3 linked regions of the Homo sapiens genome follow. The protein of the gene in region 3 purifies or fractionates together with the protein of the main gene of each other region. This does not show direct contact. Each region holds a gene or a part of one and is shown on either strand. Other genes may lie near its edges.

Evidence for each region. Proteins that work in one complex are often made in the same cells at the same time.
Region 1: the proteins of KDM4D (region 3) and RBM5 purify together in Homo sapiens (affinity purification with mass spectrometry; one large-scale study listed by BioGRID and IntAct). This does not show direct contact.
Region 2: the proteins of KDM4D (region 3) and SMCHD1 purify together in Homo sapiens (affinity purification with mass spectrometry; one large-scale study listed by BioGRID and IntAct). This does not show direct contact.

The regions. Positions count from the first base shown.
Region 1 is NC_000003.12:50,109,419-50,112,918, reverse strand, and holds part of RBM5 (RNA-binding protein 5), read right to left. Parts: intron 3,317-3,500; coding exon 3,231-3,316; intron 2,541-3,230; coding exon 2,456-2,540; intron 2,241-2,455; coding exon 2,149-2,240; intron 1-2,148. UniProt on the Homo sapiens protein: Component of the spliceosome A complex. Binds to ssRNA containing the consensus sequence 5'-AGGUAA-3'. Regulates alternative splicing of a number of mRNAs.
Region 2 is NC_000018.10:2,697,226-2,700,725, reverse strand, and holds part of SMCHD1 (structural maintenance of chromosomes flexible hinge domain-containing protein 1), read right to left. Parts: intron 2,896-3,500; coding exon 2,685-2,895; intron 188-2,684; coding exon 67-187; intron 1-66. UniProt on the Homo sapiens protein: Non-canonical member of the structural maintenance of chromosomes (SMC) protein family that plays a key role in epigenetic silencing by regulating chromatin architecture.
Region 3 is NC_000011.10:94,976,709-94,980,208, forward strand, and holds part of KDM4D (lysine-specific demethylase 4D), read left to right. Parts: intron 1-3,500. UniProt on the Homo sapiens protein: Histone demethylase that specifically demethylates 'Lys-9' of histone H3, thereby playing a central role in histone code. Does not demethylate histone H3 'Lys-4', H3 'Lys-27', H3 'Lys-36' nor H4 'Lys-20'.

The DNA.
Region 1 (3,500 bases), on a different chromosome or scaffold from region 3:
ATCATGCCACTGCACTCCAGTCTGGGCAACAGAGTAAGACTCCATCTCAAAAAAAATGATAATAAAAATTTAAAAAGTCTAGTTCCCATTAATTTAATCCCTGGGCCTACCTAGAGGGCACCCAAAGAGCAATTTGTCTCACTCTGTTCCACAGACTATTTACATAAACCAGGCAGCCAGAACAGGTGGGCGTGTCATGGAGTTCAGACATCTGCCATGACAACAGCTCATCATTGGGCCCATCCACATAGAATCCATTGGATACCAGGCAACCACACACAGGGTGTAAACACTAGCACAGAGCTGGAAGGAGGTGTTGGTGAAGGGACCCAAGCTCAGCAGGAATTGCAACAGAGGAGAGGTGTCACATATCCTCTCCTCTATTTTCCAGTCGCTCACTCTATCTGCTCAACAGGGACCCAGGAGACAGTGTCTGTCTCTTCTGGGTAAGGTGGCGTGGCTAACAGACACAACTTTTTTTTTTTTTTTTTTTTTTTTTTTTTTAGACAGAGTCTCGCTCCGTCACCCAGGCTGGAGTGCAGTGGCGCGACATTCGCTTACTGCCAGCTCCACCTCCCGGGTTCACGCCATTCTCCTGCCTCAGCCTCCCGAGTAGCTGGGACTACAGGCATTCGACACCACGCTTGGCTAATTTTTTTGTATTTTTTTTTTTTTTTTAGTAGAGACGGGGTTTCACTGTGTTAGCCAGGATGGTCTCAATCTCCTGACCTAGTGATCCTCCCATCTTGGCCTCCCAAAGTGCTGGGATTACAGGCGTGAGCCACTGCGCCCAGCCTACAGACACAACTTCTAAGGCCACCAAAGAGAACTGACGGGAAAAAAAAAAAAAAAAAAAAAGAACTGACAGGGAAATAAATGGCCAGGCTTCACAAATGAGAGAAGTGGATGGAAGAGGTATGCAGAGGCTTGGCCTGCTTAGGCACGTCACACACAGCTTCACACTTCAATCTCTCAGAAACCACAACCTATCAATGCCAAGTTCCTGTTAAAAATACTTATTACTGTTCTATATATACAGCTCCCGGTCATAAATAGAGTTATTTATGGGGTGTTAAAGTTGTTTTTCCCTTTTAAAAGTTATATATGCCACCAAAAATAAAACATCACTCCATACATCTGCTAAATTCTACCCTCAAGAATACACAGGGAGGCAAAGTAAAGGATGCTGGACACAAAAGGTAATCTATTGTCTGACTCCACTTATATGAAATGTCAAGAACAGAGGGCTGGGCACAGTGGCTCATGCCTGTAATCCTGGCACTTTGGAGGCTGAGGCGGGTGGATCACTTAAGGTCAGGAGTTCGAGACCAGCCTGGCAAACAAGGTGAAACCCTGTCTCGACTACAAAAATTAGCTGGGTGTGGTGGGCGCCTGTAATCCCAGCTACCAGCTACTCAGCAGGCTGAGGCAGGAGCATTGCTTGAACCCAGGAGGTGGAGGCTGCAGTGAGCCAAGATCGTGCCACAAAAAAAATAAAAAAAGCAAATCCATAGAGACAGAGAGTAGATTAGTAGTTACTGGAGGAGAGTACAGAATGGGGAGTGACTGTTTAACAGGTACAGGGTTTCTTCTTCGAGTGATGAAAATGTTCTGAGATTAGACAGTGGTGACAGTTACACAACACTGTGAATATATTAAAAGCCACTGATTTGTACACTCTAAAAGGTTAAACAATAGGGAGAAAAGTACAATTTAAAATTTCTAGCTAGGTCTTTCCATAAATTGTAACTTGACAAAATAATCTATGGCAACAGAAATCAAAATAGTGGTTATTGAAGACATAGGTTACTGACCAGCAATGGGCATGAGGATTAGGTGGGCTGGGAATAAGTGGTGGTGTATATACACATGTAATATACAAATGTATAGACATGTATAAACATTCAAAGAATTGCACATTTCTGTTTTGTGTATTTTTTTGTGTGTATATTATACCTCAAAACATTTTTTAACCCTACAATTAAAACTTACAATCTCCATATAAAAATTACATTTTGGTGGCTTTGAAGAAGTTAAAACTAATCTGAGTCATATATTCTTTTGCAGGAAATATTTCATTTTATGCCTCATAAATGCACTAAGCGAAACTACTTCTAGTGAAATTGAGGAGGAAAGCAGCACATTTACTTGCGAGTTGGGGTCATAATAGAGCCCTGTTGTCGGATCATAGTAATATCCTGAAGATTCATCATACTGGTAAGTGGACGTGTCAGGTACTGCTGCAAAAACAAAATCCAGCATACAGTCATTCCAGGTAAGAAATTGGCTTTATTTCAAATTCTAAGCCAGTGAGATGCAGCAGGCCTAATGTTTCTTCTCTGTCTCACATCCCCAAGTGTCCCTCTGACACCCGCAAAGGGAGAAGAACTCTCATTAAACAAAGACAACAACTAAGACCTTCCAACTGTCAACAGCCCCATGAGGTTTGGCTTACCATATTTGGTACCAGGAACTACACCAGTAGGGGAAGCGGCTGGGGCCTGTGTACTTGTGCTAGTGCTAGGCTGTGCTTCCTCAGTCTGGAAAGAACAGCAGCTTCAATATAATTTCAACTGTAAAGCCTTTTAAGAGAGCTAAATCACTGCAATCATCCAGGAGGAAGGGCTCCCCTGACAGACACACTGTAGCAATAATCTAAGGCAATCCCTCAGCAAAACACATGTTGACAACTTTTTTGCTTTCTTTTTCAAGAGGAGTCTTGCTCTGTTGCCCAAACTGGACTGCAGTGGCGCAATCTTGGCTCACTGCAACCTCCGTCTCCGGGGTTCAAGCAATTCTCCTGCCTCAGCCTCCCGAGTAGCTGGGATTACAGGCATGTGCCACCACGCCCGGCTAATTTTTGTATTTTTAGTAGAGACGGGGTTTCACCGTGTTAGCCAGGATGGTCTTGATCTCCTAACCTCGTGATCCACCCGCCTCGGCCTCCCAAAGTGCTGGGATTACAGGCGCGAGCCACCACACCCGGCCCCGGCGACAACTTTCTAAAGGTCAAGCATGCATAAAGTGTAAATACACAGTTGAAATTTTATATTTAAAATATACATGCACATATATATCATAAAATTAATATTTTAAAACAACAGAAAGAAATAAGGTTGAAGTGTGTATTACTCAATCCTGGCTCATACAACAGGAAAGGGTAATACTTGTATAGCAAAACAAAATTTCCCCATCAGCCACGAGTTTTGTATATAGGACAACAGGATTACCGGAGAGCCAGGTGGATTGGAGGTTTGATTATACAGCTGAGGACTCTGGGACACTACAGCCGCTGAGGTGGTGGTCACTGCTGTGCCTGATGATAAACACAAGTGTTAGGGAAAGCCAAGGCACTGAACGCCAACCCAAACATCTTTATTTGTAATGCCCAATCTAGCCTTCTTCTGTCATTGTATATGTCAGTTCTTCATAAGCTAACTTCCACTAAGTACCCTGGAATCTGTGACATTTTCATTTTCTTATAATTCTACTAGATGTGA
Region 2 (3,500 bases), on a different chromosome or scaffold from region 3:
AACAAAATGTTAGTTAGTAAAAGAATTAAGTTGTAAAAACATAATTTCAGCAAAAATCAAACTTACTCTTCAACTGATGTATATGGTATTAATCGTCCATTCCAAAAACATTCAAAAATAGGCCTTTTCCCTCTAGCTGCTTTCTCAAGTATGAAACAATCATCTTCATCATCTTCATCTTTTAATTCTAGATCAAAAGGGCAAATGGAACAAAATGTTTATTGCTAAAATGTGAGAAATAATGAAACAAACACATAAATGTTTCAAATTGCATTCTATAAAACCTAAAGGTAGTTTTATACTGTTTGCCCACAAAAAGGTAGGTTTACAAAGTGGTTCCACATTACGAATGCTGTCTGTCATTTAGAAGTCAATAATTACTTATATATGAACCAATGTACTAGCTGCTGGGCCTGTCATCTTTAAAACCTATTCATGAGGCTAAAAGAGTCTTACATCCAAAAAGATTATCCCCTATAACAAAATCCCTCCTTCCTACAAATATAGGAGCTTAAATCCCGTATCTAAAACAGTTTCACAATTTTATCAGAACTAGTATGTTCACATGAAAGTCATCTGAGAAATCTATGACATCTAATAGCAGCGAGTTTACCTAGTTTGAACAAATTAGTGAATGATGCTAAAATTAAGTTTACTTTTTAGAAATTATTTTCAGATTCAAGTAAGCATGAAAAATGTACACAGAACTGTAAGACATGTTACTATGCATCAAGAGCATTAATTTGCACAATTGTCTATAATCTTATGTTTATTAGCAACACACTCTCGTGTATCCAGATAAATTAGGATTAAACAATGTGATCCTGACATATTAACACCTCAGCTACCCTGGAATTAGTTTACCCACCTAAAACAAAACCTTCTCCCTAAAAGCCCTCACAAGAAGTCCCTTATATAAAAGCTGCTTTCAATCAAACAAAATCACTTTGCTCTTAGAGGAGAATCCCTCTGATTGATCACTCAACTTACTTGCTCTTCTTTTTAAGGCAGCATTTGAAAAAAATTATATCTTTTTGTCTATTAGCACACAAAAATTGGAAACAGCAAATTTAAGAGGTCAGAGATGGCCAGGCACAGGGGCTTACGCCTGTAATCCTAGCACTTTGGGAAGCTGAGGTGGGAGGATTACCTGAGCTCAGAAGTTTGAGACTACCCTTGGCAACATGACAAAACCTTGTCTCTAATAAAATACAAAAAATTAGCCTGGCATGGTGGTGGGCACCTGTAGTCCCAGTTACTCAGGAGGCTGATCCATGAGAATTGCTTGAACCTGGGAGGCAGAGACTGCAGTGAGCCTACATTGTGTCACTGCACTCCAGCGTGTGTGGCAACGCAAGACTTTTGTCTCCAAAAAATAAAAAACAAAACCAAAAAGGCCAGTGGAGCCACTGAGTAACAATATGTACTGGGCAGGAGCACTTAATAAATAGTGTTGAGCACTATTCTGAGAAGTTGCCCCAGTTTTTAAATTTGATCTTCACAACACCCCTATGAGGTGTGAACTACCCATTTCCCAGGTAAGGAAACTAAGGCAGGGAGTAGTTTGTCCAACAGAAAGTGGCAAAGATGGGATTCGAATCAGGATCTCTGGTTGCAGGCCCTAGAAAACCAAGAATGTACTAAGGAAGTATTCTGAATGAAAAAGTTTAATATTGTTAACCTATAAATTCAATGCAATCCCAATAATCTCACTAGAATTACTTCAAGTGAATGTACAAAGCTGATTCCAAAATTATCTAGAAGAGCAAAAGTATTCTCAAAAAGGAACAATAGTGAAAATGTTTTTTCCCAAAGATACCAAATTACAAGATAAAGCTACAAGACAGTATCATTACTCATATTAAAAAAAAATAAAATAGTACTTTATAGTAAAGAATCTAGACCTATGTACTTATGGGAACTTTGTATTATACAAGTTCTAACTCTTGGGTAAATTATAACATTCAATAACTGGTGCTAAGAAACTGAATATGAATACCACATAGAAAATAATTGTTAAATCCCTATCTCTCTACTGGGGGGGGAAAAAAAGGTGGGGGCCAGGTGTGGTGGCTCACACCTGTAATCCTAGTACTTTGGGAGGCCAAGGCAGGAGGATTGTTTCAGGCCAGGATCTTAAGACCAGCCTGGGCAACACGGCAAGACCCCATCACTCAAAAATTTAAATAAATAAATAAAACCCCACCTTGCTCTACATACAAAAAAGAAAAACACAGATGCATTGACCATAAAATGACAACAAAAACAAAAAAGCTACAGATTTATATAATTTTGAGATGTAAAAAGCCTTTCTACAGTAAGACAAAATCAGAAAGCATAAAGAAAAAGTTAGTAAATATGACTGCATAAAGTGTAAAACTGCAACAAGGATAAAGAGAAGACAAGGGAACATATAAAGGATTAATACGCATACATATCTAAAAGTTTGGTTTCGTAACAGAACTAAAAGAAGAGTTCATTAAAGATTTATTCATCTAGAAATGAATGTACACAAAAATCAGGAATTACAAAAATTACAAATACCTAACAATCTAAGACTTGCATAAGAAAAAATTTAATATTTATCTAACCTGAATAACCCAACCGATAATCATTTAGAAAAACAAATCACTGTCCTAAATTACAACTTCATATTTTATAACTAAGATAACAGATTAACATACTTGATGGAAAGCATGGATCATCAGGGTAAGTTTCTCTATCATATAAGAATGGATGATAACGGATAATCCCTTCCACTACACCATCTCCTTCAACATGAGCTTTGAATTCAAAACTATCAGCTGCTGTGTTTACATACAACGTCTGCATGTCGTCTTGTATTTCCCTTAGGTTGACAATCTTAGGTACCTTCCCTTTTTCAAACATAGAAATCTAAAATAAAAAGGAAACAAAAATAATTAAATTCTATGGTAACTTTACTTTTGTTCTCAGCTATGATTCAACAACAGAATAAGTAAAAATTATGTTTATTTGTACAAGTAACAATCTGGCTTAATGAAATACATATATTTACATATGAGTTAAACAGCTTTAAGTAGCATCTCAATAAGGAACATACTACTAAAAAATATAAAGTAAGCAAAGAAACAGCAAATCAGAGCTGAAGGACAGAAAAGTCATGAGTACATTTAATTCGAGGTTTCTTGCTAGAGGTAGGAAGTGGGACAACATCGTATGTGAAATTCTAACGTGTGGGTTAGAGGATTGAGAATCCAATACTCAAATGCTCTGTGCTGCTAAACCTTGTCACCACGATATAACTTCTACAAACAAAAGGAAAGCTACATTATCTCCCTTTTCCTCCATGCTTCAAGAGATGATTGATGTTCAGTAACAATGCATAGCTCCACAGAAGAGAGACAAAAAAAGATAAACCAAGCCTACAGTAAATAAAGGTTTGAGAAAAATACATCTAGGAATAATCTCTTTAGTTGGATATCAAACAATGAAAGTAGTTTGGTAAAAAACAAGGAGAG
Region 3 (3,500 bases):
TAGTTTGGCCCTTGATTGCAAAACTTTCTATTTTTATGGCAGGAGTAGCATAGGAATTCCAGTTTAAAGCTTAAACAAAATCAACACCTAAAAGGGAAAATAGAAACCATAAAAACCTAAGAAGAAAATTTAAGAAACTATTTATAGAACCTAGAATTTGGAAAGACCTTTCAATCAAAGCAGAACACCTTAAGAGCTTTAAAAGAAATACTTTTAAAAATTCATTTATCCAACAATTAATTTTATAGCTGTAGATGCCAAAAACAAGTCAATAAATTCTAGATTCGCAAATAAATTTTGTAATGCCTATAACATATAAAGGATTACTGCTACTGCTAGTGATACACATAATATAAAAATCACAAATTACCCAATTAAAAAATGGACAAAAGATATAAGCAGGCCATTCAGAAAAAGCAATTTCAAATAGACAAGTCAATAAACATGAAAGACACTCAACCTTCTAATGAGGAAAATGAAAGTAAACTAAAAATGGATTATCACATTACAGCATCCGATTGGCAACAATTAAAAAAATTAATAACATAGTTGGATGGGATTGAGAGAAAAGGGGATCCAGTCAGACAGCGGGGGGCATTGGTCCCCCATTACCCTCACAGTAAAAGCCAAGGTGTTCACAATGGTTTCCAAAGTTTTCTATGGTCTACCCTTTCCCCTACCTCTTTGACCTCATCACTTGCTCATGCTTTTCATGGCTACCTCCTTCATATTGTTGCTTGGACACGCACACAGCTGCTCCTGCTTTAGGGCCCTCACACTAGCTATTTTCTCTGCCAAGGCTATTCTTTCCTGTCTTACTCAAGTCTTTGTTCAAATGGAGTCCAACGAACCTTGGGCATCTCTACTTAAAATTGCAACTGTTCTCCCTCTCTGTCCCCTAACATTCTGTACTCCGTATCTCCCTTCCCCTCTTTCTTCTTTTTATCTTTTAAAATTATATTATATATAATTACATGGCATTTATCATCTTCCATGACCCTATATAATTTAGTTATGTTACATTTATTGTCTCTTTCTCTACTTCTCCCATGTAGAATATAAGTTCTAAAAGGGCAGAGATCTTTGTTTTGCTCAGTAATATAGGTCAAGCATTAAAACAATGCCTGGCACCAATAGCTACCCAATAAACAGTTTCCATATGAGTGAATAAAAGAAAGAATGAATGGACGAATGAAAGAATGAATTAGTTTTAAGAGGAAAAAATTGTGTTCTGTTGTAAAAAGTTATTGCCTTAATCTATTTTATATTTTAAAGGAAAAAAGTAACTTACATTGTATTAGTCTGAAATCCCGATTTCAAATGAAGATATGATAAGACCCAGAAATATGACTTTCTTTCGGGAGAGAATCTCTAAATGAAAAAAATCATATGAGATCAGGCTTTATATGTACCATCAAAATCCTAATTAAATCAGCCCTAATCCAATCACAACTCTAATCCAACTCTCTCCATCTCTTCCAGTTGAATCACTGTCTCCAATTCTACTAAACTCTCATTTACCAAGTTATTGGCCCACAAAATGTGAACATTTTGCTTAAAAATGTTTCTTTGTGGCTTTTAAATAGGAATACGAAAAAAAAAATGCCCACATGTCAGAAATTACATTTTAAAATAAAGTAACATAAATAATGAAATCTACTTCAAATTTTTAACCTGAAAATGACACATTTTCTAATATAAAAAACTAGTGCTTTCTTTGATGTTTTGACAAGTGAGAATATAAAAATAAAGTGTCTAGCCCTCTACCAACAAAATCTTGATTTTAAATGAAGACATTCTAGGGCTTAGAGAGATTATTTCCTGGAGACAGCCTCCAAATGAAATATCATTTGCTGATGGTCCAGGCTGGGTTACTGGATAATGTCATAAGTTACTCACCTCTCATCTAATCTAATCACATAAATACCTCACCAGCTGACCAGTGTACTACTGCGAAGACAATTAAAATCAAACATATTAAAAATAGTTAAAACTAAAAAACTAAAATGTAGAAAATAGAGATAGAAAAAGACATGCCAGGCAAATTCTAATTTAAAAACCTTGATGTAGCAATGTTAGTTAGCAAAAGTATTCTTAGGTTGAATAACATTAATAGGGACAAAGAAGTGCATGTATTATATTACGAAGAAAAATCCACTAGGAAAATTACTATCGGACATGTATGCAGCTAATGACATAACTTGAGAAAATATGAAGCAAAAGTAAGAAAAAGTGACAAATCTAAAATCATGGTGGGAATTTTTTTAAGATAAATTTCTCTCAGACGAGCAGATCAAGCAAACAACAACATTGATCTACTATATAAGTTATATGTGTGTACATATATGTGTGCATTATATATGTATGCTTATTGTATTTCTATGTGCATGTAAAAAGTTCACTGTAATCAGAGCAGAATATATATTCTTTTCAATAAACATTGAATATTTACAAAAAGTAATCAAGTATAAAGCCCTCCCCAAATTTCAACAAATGCCAATGTATGCATTTCCTTTTTTATTTATTTATTTATTTTTTTGAGACAGAGTCTCACTCTGTCACCCAGGCTGGACTGCAGTGGCACAATCTTAGCTCACTGCAACCTCCTTCTCTCAGGCTCAATGGATTCTCCTGCCTCAGCCTCCCGAGTAGCTAGGATTACAGGTGCGTGCCACCATGCCTGGCTAATTTTTGTATTTTTAGTAGAGATGGAGTTTCACCATGTTGGCCAGGCTGGCCTCGAACTCCTGACCTCAAGTGATACACCTGCCTCGGCCTTCCAAAGTGCTGGGATTACAGGTGTGAGCCAGCGCACCTGGCCCAATGTGTGCATTTCTAAATGATAATAGTCTTGCCAATTTTTAAATTTTATATAAATGTTCAAAATGTTTATGTAAATGAATATGTATTCCTTTATGTTTTTGCTTTATTCCTCCCACTTAATGTGTGCTATCTGTAGCTCTGATATACTATTTAGAGTTTCATTGTATAAAAATACACACCATAACTTGTTAATTCTAGTAATTATCTTTTCGTTGTAGTGATAATTGCAAATAATGCCACAATGAACATTTCTGTAAATGTGCAAAGGTGCATGTGTGTGCATTTTTCATATATATATTTCATCAACAGGAGATGAGAGTTCTTGTTCTATAATCTCACCACACTTGATTGTCCGGCTTTTCAATTTTAGCTCATTTGGTGGGTATATAGTGATATATCATTGAGGTCTCAGTTTGCATTTCCCTGATTATTAATTCACATGTTAATTGTCCATTTGGATTTCTTCTTCTGTGAGGTATCTGTTTAAATCTTTCTATTGAATCATCTTTTCTTTATGGATTTCTATGATTTCTTAAGTTTAGGCATAGTTCTCTGTCACTTATTTGTGCTGCATATACAATTTGCCACTTCTCTGCTTCTCTTTTTGGAACCACTTTTAGAGTGGTTCAATTATCATTCTTTTCCTTTTTGCTTAATGCATGGTATTTCTTGATTAT